Regions from separate parts of the Homo sapiens genome. Here regions 2 and 3 are each reported to be linked to region 1. Evidence: microRNA targets listed by miRTarBase, many of them from high-throughput screens and not tested one by one. Region 1 holds a microRNA gene; each other region holds the end of a gene's coding sequence.
What was found. The annotated mature microRNA hsa-miR-628-5p reads AUGCUGACAUAUUUACUAGAGG and lies in region 1 at 2,653-2,674, shown strand. An mRNA with a match to its seed (bases 2 to 7 or 8) in the 3' UTR can be bound and repressed. Matches are read on the target gene's strand: a 7mer-m8 pairs with bases 2 to 8, a 7mer-A1 pairs with bases 2 to 7 and ends in A, and an 8mer does both.

Region 2: the mRNA of UBXN2B is a reported target of hsa-miR-628-5p. Seed matches in the 3' UTR shown: 8mer at 1,330-1,337, 7mer-m8 at 1,646-1,652 and 7mer-A1 at 3,447-3,453.
Region 3: the mRNA of GBP6 is a reported target of hsa-miR-628-5p. Seed matches in the 3' UTR shown: 7mer-A1 at 390-396 and 7mer-A1 at 2,537-2,543.

What each region holds. Positions count from the first base shown.
Region 1 is chr15:55,370,665-55,375,664 of GRCh38, reverse strand. It overlaps MIR628 (microRNA 628), which reads left to right and starts at 2,631; the gene lies at 2,631-2,725. It overlaps CCPG1 (cell cycle progression 1), which reads left to right. Exons shown (of 9, transcript NM_001204450.2): 6 at 3,621-3,872. It overlaps DNAAF4-CCPG1 (DNAAF4-CCPG1 readthrough (NMD candidate)), which reads left to right. Exons shown (of 16, transcript NR_037923.1): 13 at 3,621-3,872.
Region 2 is chr8:58,446,834-58,451,833 of GRCh38, forward strand. UBXN2B (UBX domain protein 2B) reads left to right here. Exons shown (of 8, transcript NM_001077619.2): 8 at 556-4,668. The coding sequence ends at 718. Among named protein-coding and RNA genes, the nearest start is that of UBXN2B, 38 kb to the left of the region's middle.
Region 3 is chr1:89,385,145-89,390,144 of GRCh38, forward strand. It overlaps GBP6 (guanylate binding protein family member 6), which reads left to right. Exons shown (of 11, transcript NM_198460.3): 11 at 86-3,016. The coding sequence ends at 325. Among named protein-coding and RNA genes, the nearest start is that of GBP6, 24 kb to the left of the region's middle.

The DNA of each region.
Region 1 (5,000 bases):
TAATGAGAAGTTATTTTCAGTTAGTATATCAGTGGTTTGCCTATAAACATGAACGTGAAAACACTTTTTCCAGCTATTTGAATATTCATGTGACATTCTTGATGTTCAGAGGAAAACTTCAGGCTTTGTTAGAATAGCATTCATAGTATCTTTATTTATGGAGGGGTATTGTAATTGATTTTAGAATCCTTGTTAGTCATCAAATTTTATTATTATTTTTTTAAACTCCAGGATTTGTGTTGTATTCAGGTAGTTTCCCCACCCCCGCTTCCTTTCCTGCCTCTGGTTTAATTAGAGAATATTCATGGCCCAGAAAAGTCAAATTGAAGCCAGAGTATTATAGAATGGTCAGATATATAAGAAACTGACATAGACGTAAAAGGAACTACATACTGTTGCTGGGCGTGGTGGCTCACGCCTGTAATCCCAGCACCATCTCAAAAAAAGAAAGAAATTACATATTAACTTTTTTCAGGAAGTTGTATAGTTCTAAGACCATTCTTCTAATATTTATCTTCTTTCTGAATTCTGACTTCTTGAGATTTTTGTGGACTAAGAGGAATATTTGATTAACTGTATTTTTACCCATTGTTATTCCTCCTAAAGATATTGTTTCAATAAACCAAATGTTTAAAGACGAAATTTTGGACTATACTGAAAACACTGCATATAAACCAGTTGCCAAAAGTTTTTGTTTTGGGGCCGGGCACTTTGGCTCATGCCTGTAATCCCTGCACTTTGGGAGACTGAGGCAGGCAGATTACCTGAGGTAAGGAGTTTGAGACCAGCCTGACCAACACGGCAAAAACCCTTCTCTACTGAAAATACAAAATTTAGCCAGGTGCCTGTAATCCCAGCTACTTGGGATTAGCTGCCTGTGGTAGCGCAGGCCTGTAATCCCAGCTACTCTGGAGGCTGAGGCAGGAGAATCTCTTGAACCCAGGAGGCGGAGGTTGCAGTGAGCCAAGATTGCGCCACTGCACTCCAGCCTGGGCAATAGAGGGAGACCCCGTCTCAAAAAAATAAAAAAGATGGTTTTTGTTTTTCCCTTTTAGTTTGTTAATTTTGTGCTAGCCATTGCTTAATTTTGTTTTTTCCTTTCCCTTTCTTCATCCTTAAGGATTTCAACTTCAATTTTTTCTTCTCCTGACTTATATTCTTGTGGCAGTGTACGTTTTGTTGGGTTAAGAACACTGCCTGCTTCCTCTTTATGAACTCTCTTCCCTGACAAAAAGCAAAGTTGGTAGTGTAGAGAAGTTTGTATTGTGTGTTTTTAAGAAGGCATGGTTATTACGTTTTAATTTTGTACGGATAACAATGTTAAGTGATAATTAAGTATTTTTAATTCTTTTTTTTCTTTTTAGTCTTTATAATATAGCTTTATGCCTCTTTTTTTCCTGTTTATTCACAAAAGAAAGGTGGTGGGAGAAGCTGTGGAAGATTCCTGAGTGCATATGGGGATGGGATGATCAGCTGAAACACCATGTTCCTAGCCAACTCGCTTTCCAAGGTGGTGTGACTAAATCTGACCAGCTTCTCTAGAGCTGAGTGTGCCTAGTCACATTTACTATTTACCGAGTGCTTTAAAGATACCTGTTGTCATCCGCAATACTCTAAACAGGTGTTCAGAATCTCTTGTAAAGGAGCTGGCCAAGCTTATTGCATGCCTTTGCATTGCTTGCATCTATGGGCCAAATTAAGCTTTTTTAAAAGAAGTTAAAAATCAAAATATTTCAGCTATTATATGTATGGGTTAAAAAAGTTGGAAGCATTAGATAAGGACATGAATATATTAATGTGGGTTAGGCTGTTTTGTTAGAATATATAATGAAGGTAATGTTAATGTAGAATTGAACAATTATTTAAATAAGTTTTACAAATGGTTTGTTTTTACATTTACCTATCTTAATTTTATGTCAGAAAGCCTGACTTAAATACTCTAACCATGATCATGAATGCCTTTGTATTATGTAATGCTTTGTTTAAGTCTTCCTTTCTTTCTCTTTGTCCAAGAAATATAATCTCACACCTGAGGCGACGGCATCTTTGAAAAACTAGTGATCAAGAATAACCAGATAAACATGATGGGCATAAGGGTCATGACCAAAAAGATCTCTCAGTGGCATCTGTATCACTAAATATTAGGAATATTCATTCATTTCAGTAGTGCCTTCTGTCTTTGTGTTTATTGTTGTAAGTGTGAAAGTGAACTGAATACTCCATGATCCATCTCTGAAAAATATTGCCTAACCTAAATCACCAGCTTTCCTGTGGCATGGATATCCTGTCTTCTGAAGAACTGTTTTTGCTTTTCTGGAGCATGAATGTTTGTTGTTTTAGAGCTCTTTGTATTCGAGTTCATATTTTATCCTTATTTTTAGTGCTTTTCCTCTAAGTAGCTTGTGGAAATTATTTCTGAGTAATTGAAGCTTCTGTGTCAACATAATAGTTTGTTGACATAAGAAACAGTGTTAAGAAATTATGCATTTGGAAAAAACTGAAGGTGATTTTTTCCAGGGAATTTGTTTCCTGGACTTGGGATTTCTTGTGCAAATTTTCCCCACTAGTTTGTTTTTCTCTACTATTATTTTCATAAAGGAGCAGCACCAGAATAGTCCTTAATATCGGAGATAGCTGTTGTGTCACTTCCTCATGCTGACATATTTACTAGAGGGTAAAATTAATAACCTTCTAGTAAGAGTGGCAGTCGAAGGGAAGGGCTCATCTGACTTCTGGAAACCTATGTTAAAATACAGTGCTTTGAACCTTGATCATGGGCTAATTAGGTTGGAAATGAAACTAGAGACCAGATACACCCAAGGAAACTTTTGGTAGTTATTTTACTTTATAAGTCACAGGAAATGCTTGTGTACTTTCCTGTGTTCCTTAAATAGTTGCACTTAAATTACCTCTTTGAAACTGAATGAAGAGACAGAGAGTATTTTTTTTCTTTCCAGAAATAATACTTGTTTATACCTGTAATAGCAATGAAATTTTGTTTCTTTTGAGACAGAGTTTTGCTCTGTCTCCCAGTCTGGAGTATAGTGGCAGGATCTCAGCTCACTGCAACCTCCACCTCCCAGGTTCAAGTGATTCTCCTGCCTCAGCCTCCCAAGTAGCTGGGACTATAGGTGCACTACCATGCCCGGCTAATTTTTGTATTTTTAGTAGAGAAGGGGTTTCGCCATGTTGGCCAGGCTGATCTCGAACTCCTGACCTCAGGTGATCTGCCCGCCTCGGCCTCCCAAAGTGCTGGGATTACAGGCGTGAGCCACTGCTCCTGGCCAGCAATGAAACTTGAGGCTATGCGAATGAAGGATTGTTCTAAGAGTGTAAACTATAAGGCGAGGAGGATTAAATAAAAAAACAGAGATAGGCTCTCAAAGCACCAAATAGTATGATTAACAGATTCTTGTGTATCACATTTGAAATGCTTTATGTTTTGGCTTTATGTTGATGAGTTGAAAACCCGTGTTTTTGTTTATGTTGTTTGGTTTTTGTTTTTGGCTATCTTATGTAGAAAGGCATGTAAGGGATGGCATTGATTATTCTAAATAATTTTTACTGGGAAAGCTTTTCCAAGATTTTGAATAGCTAAATGTCAACTTTTTTCTTAATAGTATTTTCATCTCAGCCTAGTGACGATGAATCAAGTAGTGATGAAACCAGTAATCAGCCCAGTCCTGCCTTTAGACGACGCCGTGCTAGGAAGAAGACCGTTTCTGCTTCAGAATCTGAAGACCGGCTAGTTGCTGAACAAGAAACTGAACCTTCTAAGGAGTTGAGTAAACGTCAGTTCAGTAGTGGTCTCAATAAGTGTGTTATACTTGCTTTGGTGATTGCAATCAGCATGGGATTTGGCCATTTCTATGGTAAGTACTCAAAAATGTGTTATACATAACCTGATGGGATAGTGTAGAGGAACTTAAGAGTGAGGACTCTTGGGATCTGTTTTCAGTGCCATTATTAAATGTGTGGCCTTGAAAACTTGAAGCCTGTTTGAGCCTCAGTTTTCTCATTCGGGAAGTGGGTGCTGCCTATCTCACAAAGCTTTTTATTTAAATAAGGTAGTAGTTATTAAGAAATGTAAGGATAATAACCATATATGTTTGTGACTCTTTTAAAGTTAAAAGATTGGAAGATTAAAAATCTGAAATGCTCACCATGAGGCAAATCATTTACATTTAGAATCACACTTAAACTAAGTTGAAGTGTGACTTTATTAGGAAGATTATTTAAATCCCAGTTGAAATAGTTACATTTGAAATGTGTAAATAATAAGTGTTCATTATTTCTACTTTGAGGTTTCATGTAAGTATCATACTTTGTAACTTTCATTGTTGCTTCTGTGATTCACATGAATTGAGAGTTTGTCATCTTTGTTCTTATACTTTGCTCTTTATTATGATTGATACTGTTTATATATGTTGATTATCTTATCAATTCAAAGCTTTTAAATGCCTTTTGGGTGAGAAGAGGAAGGTATTCTATTGGTGTTACTTTACTTTTTCATTTAGGAGCCTCACCCATTGACTCTCTCCTTTGTTTTTTGGAGACGGAGTCCCACTCTGTCGCCCAGGCTGGAGTGCAGTGGCACAATCTCAGCTCAATGCAAACTCCACTCCCAGGGTTCTAGCAATTCTCCTACCTCAGCCTCCGGAGTAACTGGGATAACAGGCGCCCGCCACCATGCCTGGCTAATTTTTTTATATTTGTAGTAGAGACGGGGTTTTGCCATGTTGGCCAGGCTGGTCTCGAAGTCTTTTTTTTTTTTTTTTTCTTTTTTTTTGAGACGGAGTCTCACTCTGTCGCCCAGGCTGGAGTCCAGTGGTGCGACCTTGGCTCAATGCAGCCTCTGCCTCTGGGTTCAAGTGATTCTCCTGCCTCAGCCTCCTGAGTAGCTGGGACTACAGGCGCCTGCCACCACGCCCAGCTAATTTTTTTGTATTTTTAGTAGAGACGGGGTTTCACCATCTTGGCCAGGCTGGTCTCAATCTCCT
Region 2 (5,000 bases), not on the chromosome of region 1:
GTCTCCCAGGCTGGAGTGCAGTGGCGGAATCTCAGCCCACTACAAACTCCGCCTTCCAGATTCAAGCAATTCTCATGCTCAGCCTCTTGAGTAGCTGGGATTACAGACAGCCACCACCATGCCCAGCTAATTTTTTCTGGTTTTAGTAGAGACGGGGTTTTCACCGTGTTAGCCAGGCTAATCTTGAACTCCTGGCCTCAAGTGATCTGCCCACCTCTGCCTCCCAAAGTGCTGGAATTACAGGCGTAAGCCACCGTGCCCAGCTGGACCTGCACTTTTAAAATAACAACATTAGTACACTTACTTTATTCATAACTTACCTGAAGATTGTTTCCATTTTACAGGAAAAGTAAATGTTAAGTACACACTAAAGTTACTTTACATTTTAACTGAAGCCTAAGATAAATCCTTCAATTGAAATACTATATATTAAAGAAAGTTACAACACCTTTATATAAAGATTAAAATTTTGTGATTTTTATTATGATTCAGTTTTAAGTTTACATGAAAATATGATTTTTTATATTACAAATTATTTTTGTCTTATTTCTTCAGGATCCTGGATGTCCGGAACTTTATTGTACAGTCTCGTCCTGAATTTGCGGCTCTTGACTTTATTCTTGTGACTTCATTTCCGAATAAAGAGCTAACAGATGAAAGCCTGACACTGCTAGAAGCAGATATTCTTAACACTGTGTTACTCCAGCAACTAAAATAATATTGTTCCTGTCCATGCAGTAGCATGTGGGAATAGATGATGTGCCGTATTAATAAGGACAATACTTCAGCATTAAAAACAGCCAAATTATTTTTATTATTTTTACAGATAAATTTTGGTTTTATTGTTATTCTGTCTTCCAATCTGAATATAGACAAATTTGGATTAGGAATAGACCTTGAGATAAGTATGTTTGAGTTTTTAGTTGAAGGACTGGCTTATGTTGATAGTTTTTGGATTTCTAGGCAAATGAGTTGTTACATGCTTAGTGTTAATGTAACAACATTTGTTTGCAGAGAAAAATGAACAAAACCCCTTTTTGATAAATGCATTTGGTAAAATTTGCACTAAAGTTTCTTGATGCAGCATTGACCAACAGCCATTAAGAAATCTTTTGATCAAATAAGTTGAAAATTTGTCTATAATATATACTGAAACGTGTCTTTTGATTTTGAAATTGTTTGATCATACAATAATTATTTCTCCTATTAAGATTTTACACATCCTTTTTACTTACTGATTTAGATATATTACTAGTATCAGAAACTACAGTTTTGCCTTGTATTTTACAGAATTATGACTGTTGTGAACTTAAACAGAAACACATAAAGGTCAGCAATTCTTTTTTTTTTTTTTTTTGATATGGAGTTTTGCTCTTGTTGCCCAGGCTGGAGTGCAATGGCATAATTTCTGCTCACCGCAACCTCCGCCTCCCAGGTTCAAAAGATTCTCCTGCCTTAGCCTCCCAAGTAGCTGGGATTACAGGCATGCGCCACCATGCCTGGCTAATTTTTGTACTTTTGCTAGAGACAGCGTTTCTCTGTGTTGATCAGGCTGGTCTCGAACTCCGAACCTCAGGTGATCCACCCACCTCAGCCTCCCAAAGTGCTGGGATTACAGGCATGAGCCACCACGCCCAGCCTAAAGGTCAGCAGTTCTTAAGAAGATATGGTAAACAGCAACAATATTTTAAAATCAAGTAATTACAGTTCCTCCCAGAGCTTGCGTTGATCACATTCATTTATTCATTCAACACATTTTTCTAGGAAACTCACTGTATACACTAAACACTATTCTGTGTGCTCAACCTAGAATGTCTTCTCCAGAACAAGACTAGTGTAGAAATACAGGAATGTAAATTCTGTCAGACGGACTAGATCTAAAGAATTACCAGCATAAATGTTTGCATTTCTGCTGAAGCCAGAAGCTTTTCCTTCTTCCTAGACACCATTTCATCCTTAATTATTACTTCTGGTTAGTTTTCCATTGCCACCATAACAAGTTACAAAATGTGGCTTAAAATAGCACAAATTTATTATCTTCACAATTCTGTAGGTTAGGAGTCCAGGTTAAGAGTTTCGCGGTGCCAAGATCAATTTGTTGGCAGGGTTGCATTCTGTTAGGAGGCTCTACAGGAGAATCATTTCCTTGTCATTCCACCTTCTACAGGACATCCTCATTCCTTGGCTTGTGACCTCCTTCTTCCATCTTAAAAACCAGTGCTGTTTCATCTCTATGACCCTTCTGTTACCACATCTCTCTGACACCAGTGTGGAGAGGTTCTCTGCAGGACTCATGATTAAATGAGGCCCACCGGATATCCAATCTAGGCTTATCTCCTTGTCTTGAAATCCATAGTAACCTTAATTACATCTGCAAAATCTCTTTTACCATCTAAGGTTACATACAGGTTTGGAGATTAGGACATTAACATTTTACATGGAACATTATTCTTGCCTACTACAGTTCCCACCCACCCCCCGCTCCACTCCTGTGTTAAAGATTCAGATTCATCACAAATAAATTTACATCACTCATAGGTGCTCAAAAGTCACAATCCATTATTACAGCATCAACTCTAAATCCAAAATCTTATCTGAGTCTCACCAACTCAAAAGTCTCAAATCTCACATTGAAGCCATCTAAATTAAGTTTGGGAGAGGATCTGTGTGTGATTTCTGGGACATAATTCCAACTGTGCACTTGTGAACCTAGAAAACAAGTTATCTGTTCCCAAGTATGATGGCATGACAGGCAGACAATAATAGTTACACACGTTCCTGTTCAAAAAGCAGAAACAGATGGAAAAAGGAGCCATCAGCACCAATCAATTTACAAAACCAGCGAGGCACCCTTCTTTAAGTTTCAAGGCCTGGGAGTAATCTTCAGCTCACTGCTGTTCTCTGGGCTTGTTGACTGTCTCAGAGTCATCTTTACTTTTTCACAAAAGGTAGCACACGTTTGCAGCTGAGTATCAACTTATCAGTTTGTTCTTCTTTTATATTCTCTAAAGCTTTCTGTTAAAAATGGTGGTGCTTCTGCTGCTATAACGTTGTCAAGAAACTTGTGGGTCTTTTACATATGTCACAGGGATGCACTCATTTAGATAGGAGGCTCCTCACGTATCTTTCCTGGAAAATCCTGTCTCTGTTTTTGGCTTTTTCTGAAATAGCTGAGAGGATCTATGATTCACACCCTTAATATCTTCAAAGAGTCTTGTGTGTGACCTGATATTCAGACCTTTTGATGTTTCTGAAGTATTAGCAAAAGGTTATACAGCCATATCTTCATCACTTTCTCTAGAGTAAAGGCTGTCCTGACGGTGAATCTTAGTTTTAGTGGCTTTTGCCATTTGAATAGGCCGCGAATTTCCCAAATCATCAAGTCCTGGTTTCTTTATATTTAACAGGTCTTCCCTCAATCTACCTCTTTCCACATTTTACTATAATCAGCAAGAAGACAGCAGGCTGTACCTTCCACAGCTTGCTTGGAAATATCCTCAGCTAAATATTGAAGTCATCACTTAAAAGTTCTGCTTTACACATAACGGCAGGACACAACTCAGCTTAGCTTTTCGCCACTATGTAACAAGGACTCCTTTCCTCCACTTCTCCAGTAACATATTCCTCATTTTTTACCAACAGTCTATTCATGATGATTTAGATATTCTATGGCAATCGAGGTATTCTCTATTATGCTCCTTTCTTCAAGGCCGCCCTAGCATTAACATTCCATATTTCTACTAACAGTCTGTTTAAGGCAGTTTAGCTTCTTTTCTGGCATGCTCCTCAGAATTCTTCCAGCCTCCACCTACTGCCCAATTCCAGAGCCACTTTTCTACTTTTAGGTATTTGTTACAGCAGCACCTCAAGTACCTAGAAAACTCTTTTATGCCTGCTTCTCTGCCAGATGACTTGAATATGGTACTAGATTTGGAATTCACCTTTCTCCAGGGTCACTGTTTATTTCAAAGAGGTGAATTTACCTGTGCTAGGGTTTTCACACTGGGAGTGCTACCAGAACTACCACAGGATGAAAGTGGTGAGCCCACCACTGCAGAGAAGTTTTCTCAGTGCCGTAATATAGAGGAATTCTCAAAATAAGCCCTACTCCTTTTCACTTACTGAAAACAACTTGGATAATGTGTAACAGCCAGCCCCATTTCAAAAAGATTACCAGGGGTAAAACAACTTTTTCATGGGTCAAAATCATCTTCCGAAGAAAATGATTTCTTAAAAGAATTGAACATTGTAAATCAAAGGGCATTGTCCTGTTTTGGATTAACAAAACAGGAAAAATAACCAATCCTTGTAAAATTATTTGAAATTTTCTTGTTTTTATCAGTTGAGTGCCTATAGATGCACATACAAAAACAACTGCCATTTTTGTATATAATAGTCTTCCAAGATAGAGATTTACATTAGGAGAGAATTAAACATCCAGGAGGGATGAACAGTATTTCATGTGTGCTATGTAGTGTTTTGCTTCATTGAGAGTCATTTTCATGAATTATTTTTACTACTGCAGTCATCTTAAATTTATAATCATCTCAAAAAAGATGTCACAATGAACAGACAACCATCTGTGAGGTCAGTCATTTTGCATGATGTATGTAATCAAAAAGTTTGAAATGTCTGCTTACTAATAAAGAATGTTTTCACTGAAACTTATTGGAAAGGTTTTTCAAATTTTCTTTGATTTGTAGTTTTGAGTCCTGAATAGATTGTTTTAACATGAATAACATTTCCTGTGGTTTAATTTCCCTTGGCGCACCTTTGTCAGGGACAGGGAAGGAACTGGTTGTAGCATATTATCTGAATATCCTGTTACTGTTTCTGTTTTTATTCTACCCAAATAAAAAGGTTCAGGTGCTTCTTTTTTGCCACAATGGATTTCTGAAAACCTTGTCACAACTGTGAAAGGAAAGCAAATCTTGGGACCCCAGAATCACTAAGCTAAAGGGAAAAGTCAAGCTGGAAACTGCTTAGTGCAAACCTGCCTC
Region 3 (5,000 bases), not on the chromosome of region 1:
TTCACACAGGTTTTAAATACAAAATGTAAGTCTTAAAAGAATAGGGATTTTTAAAAATTTACTTTCCTTCCTACATTGTCTTTAGGTCCAAAATGATTGGCTTCATGAAGGATTTAAGAAGAAGTATGAGGAGATGAATGCAGAGATAAGTCAATTTAAACGTATGATTGATACTACAAAAAATGATGATACTCCCTGGATTGCACGAACCTTGGACAACCTTGCCGATGAGCTAACTGCAATATTGTCTGCTCCTGCTAAATTAATTGGTCATGGTGTCAAAGGTGTGAGCTCACTCTTTAAAAAGCATAAGCTCCCCTTTTAAGGATATTATAGATTGTACATATATGCTTTGGACTATTTTTGATCTGTATGTTTTTCATTTTCATTCAGCAAGTTTTTTTTTTTTTTCAGAGTCTTACTCTGTTGCCCAGGCTGGAGTACAGTGGTGCAATCTCAGCTCACTGCAACCTCTGCCTCCTGGGTTCAAGAGATTCACCTGCCTCAGCCCCCTAGTAGCTGGGATTATAGGTGTACACCACCACACCCAGCTAATTTTTGTATTTTTAGTAGAGATGGGGTTTCACTATGTTGGCCAGGCTGGTCTCGAACTCTTGACCTCAAATGATCCACCCGCCTCGGCCTCCCAAAGTGCTGGGTTTACAGGCATGAGCCACCATGCCCAGCCCTCATTTAGCAAAGTTTTAAACATAAAAAGTGCTTATTAGAGGATATCAGTGCCTGGCCCACATGAGAGAACAGATCCATACACACTTTGAAAAACTTTGTTCACTTTTAGGAAATATAATTTTGAAAAATCATTTACATACAAGAGGTCCACTGAGGCATTGCTTTTAATGGCAAAATATTGCAATGTACTTGAATGTCCTTCACATTAGATTGGTAAGATAAATTTTAGTATGTGCATGTACTGGAATATTATATAGCCAGTAAACAAATTGACAATGAAGCTCTATTTGTACCAGTAAAGAATGGTCTTGAAGAGACATTGTAAAATGAAAAAAAAAAAAACCAAGTTGTAAAGCAATGTAGATTATCTTATCAGCATGGAAAAAATGCAATTATTATATGGAAGCATGCAAATATATCTCTGGAAAGATTAATCAAAATCTATTATTATTGGCTCCTTCTGGGAAGAACCAAGTGAATGTAGGGGTTGAAGGAACACATACTCTTCACTTTATACTCTTGAATTTTGTAAAGAAATCTTATTTTACCGATTCAGAAATAAATAAGAAAATGTAAGAGACAATGCTAATAATGATAACAATAAAAAAATAGTGAAATTGGCTATCAGATGATGAAATTCCTTGTTGCTTCTAGGAATTACATCAGCCAGCCCAATGAGGGGTCTAAGACTAAGATCTGAGTACTAGAATGCAAAAAATTTGCATCATATTCTTGTTTTCATTTTGGCCTGGTTTTTCGATCCCTTCTATTTGTTTCGAGACTAAGGCATACACTTTTCTGTGGCCTTTGAAATCTCAGCTACAGTAGCCTCTACTTCCTTTCTCTGAATTCAAGTTTTAAGGTGTTAGAAGCATAAATTACCAAACATTAAGATTAAGCACTGATAGGAAGGATCCTGCCAACCTTGTCAGTAGTGGTCTTTTTGCGGTAGCCTCAGATAGAAAGGACAATGTGCCTTTCCAGAACTGAACCCCCTGATGGGGGATGATAGACCCAGACACATAGAGGCCTGGTGTTGACCCTTAATTGTTAGAATCTAAGAAGATTCAGTTATAGTAATGAGTGGCAGACTGCAAGGCCTGATGGAGATAATTCTGAAGATGGTCAATACAATGGACCAGCCATAGGGTTAAATGGGATGGGGAGAAAACAATCAAGTGAAGTAAATGCTGTCTATCAGGATGTTGAGAGGTAGCCCTGATAAAGTGTCACATCCATAGCCTTGATCTGAGCTAATTTCAGACCCTGAACTCAGTTGGAGTGGAGGGCAGTACCCCAGGAAAGGACACTGCAACTCCAGGACCCAAATAAATGATAATGATTTCCCAAGTTCTCCTCCTAGGAAACGTCTGGAGCCATTTACTAGATATCCATATACTAGGGAAATACAAACACCCAAATATTTCAAGGACCCTTGGAATCAGGATCCAAGTTGCCCATGGTACCTAGATCATGGAGAGTCATCGTAAAATGCCTGTTAAAATAGGGAATTAGGGCCTCCAGGTTGTAATTATAGTCTTGGCACACATGAACTTATTGCAATATAGTATTTGTTTGAAATGTAAAGGTAAAGTTTGTTTGAAGACAGATACCTTATTTTTCTGTACATCTCCTTGGGAGTATGTTCAGGCATAGGTTGTGCTAAATAAGCTTCTTTTATAAAAACAATAGGCTGATGCATGGGTGATTATTTTCAATTGATAAAATATCATGAACTTTCCAGAGATCAGTGGTAATAAGTTGTTTGAATTTTCGACACCAGATTAAGGTCTCTGAGGTGGTTTAAAGGCTATGAGGCCAGGTGCAGTGGCTCACGCCTATAATCTCAGCAACTTGGGAGGCCGAAGCAGGCAGATCACTTGAGGTCAGAAGTTTGAGACCAGCCTGGCCAACATGGCGAAACCCTGCCTTTACTAAAAATACAAAAATTAACCAAGTGTGGTGGCACACGCCTGTCATGCCAGCTACACAGGAGGATGAGGCAGGAAAATCACTTGAACCTGGGAGGTGGAGGTTGCAGTGAGCCGAGATTGTGCCATTGCACTCCAGCCCGGGCAACAGAGCCTGGGCGACAGAGTGAGGCTCTGTCTCAAAAAATTAAACTAAATTAAAGCTATGAGAAGAAAATAAATTTTCCTGGTATAGTGTCCTTCTCTAGACCTCATGTCCTACAGTCTCTGTGAAACTGGGCCAAAGATAGAATTTTTTTTTCTGTGCTTTATACAGTGACTCAGACAAACCTATGACCTCACACAAATCTGTAACTTCATGTATCACAGTCTCTATAAAACTATATCAAAGAAAGAATTTTTCTCTGTGCTTTATAGAGTGGTTCACCCAGATCTGTAAAGAAATGAAGACAATTTTAGAGCTTTCAATATCCTGTATTGCATATCAGGTCAAATCTGATACTTTCAAAACTGGATAGATCTATTTCAGATATCTTTGATGCTTTTAACAAGAATCCCATTCAATGTTATCTAAGGACTATAGTTCAAGAAGACTAAGACACTATTCAGTCGGGGCACAATAAGACCACCTTATAAGCACCACTCATCCTTCCTTTTCTGAGCATGCTTTTGCCATGTTTCAATGATTCAGAGACATTCTAGTGAATCCCATTTTGACAACAAAGTGGGATCAAGAGACCCCAAGGCCATCCTCAGGTTCAATGACTCTTTAGAAGACATGGAACTCAGAAAAAAAATTTTTTTGGGGGGTTTTCTTCTTTTTTCTTTTATTTTATTTATTTTTCTTTTATTATTATACTTTAAGTTTTAGGGTACATGTGCACATTGTGCAGGTTAGTTACATATGTATACATGTGCCATGCTGGTGCGCTGCACCCACTAACTCGTCATCTAGCATTCGGTATATCTCCCAGTGCTATCCCTCCCCCCTCCCCCCACCCCACAACAGTCCCCAGAGTGTGATGTTCCCCTTCCTGTGTCCATGTGTTCTCATTGTTCAGTTCCCACCTATGAGTGAGAATATGCAGTGTTTGGTTTTTTGTTCTTGCAACAGTTTACTGAGAATGATGATTTCCAATTTCATCCATGTCCCTACAAAGGACATGAACTCATCATTTTTTATGGCTGCATAGTATTCCATGGTGTATATGTGCCACATTTTCTTAATCCAGTCTATCATTGTTGGACATTTGGGTTGGTTCCAAGTCTTTGCTATTGTGAATAGTGCCACAATAAACATACGTGTGCATGTGTCTTTATAGCAGCATGATTTATAATCCTCTGGGTATATACCCAGTAATGGGATGGCTGGGTCAAATGGTATTTCTAGTTCCAGATCCCTGAGGAATCGCCACACTGACTTCCACAATGGTTGAACTAGTTTACAGTCCCACCAATAGTGTAAAAGTGTTCCTATTTCTCCACATCCTCTCCAGCACCTGTTGTTTCCTGACTTTTTAATGATTGCCATTCTAACTGGTGTGAGATGGTATCTCATTGTGATTTTGATTTGCATTTCTCTGATGGCCGGTGATGGTGCGCATTTTTTCATGTGTTTTGTGGCTGCATAAATGTCTTCTTTTGAGAAGTGTCTGTTCATGTCCTTTGCCCACTTTTTGATGGGGTTGTTTTTTTCTTGTAAATTTGTTTGAGTTTATTGTAGATTCTGGATATTAGCCCTTTGTCAGATGAGTAGGTTGCGAAAGTTTTCTCCCATTTTGTAGGTTGCCTGTTCACTCTGATGGTAGTTTCTTTTGCTGTACAGAAGCTCTTTAATTAGATCCCATTTGTCAATTTTGTCTTTTGTTGCCATTGCTTTTGGTGTTTTAGACATGAAGTCCTTGCCCATGCCTATGTCCTGAATGGTATTGCCTAGGTTTTCTTCTAGGGTTTTTATGGTTTTAGGTCTAACATTTAAGTCTTTAAGCCATCTTGAATTGATTTTTGTATAAGGTGTAAGGAAGGGATCCAGTTTCAGCATTCTACATATGGCTAGCCAGTTTTCCCAGCACCATTTATTAAATAGGGAATCCTTTCCCCATTGCTTGTTTTTGTCAGGTTTGTCAAAGATCAGATAGTTGTAGATATGCGGCGTTACTTCAGAGGGCTCTGTTCTGTTCCACTGATCTATATCTCTGTTTTGGTACCAGTACCATGCTATTTTGGTTACTGTAGCCTTGTAGTATAGTTTGAAGTCAGGTAGTGTGATGCCTCCAGCTTTGTTCTTTTGGCTTAGGATTGACCTGGTGATGCGGGCTCTTTTTTGGTTCCATATGAACTTTAAAGTAGTTTTTTCCAATTCTGTAAAGAAAGGCATTG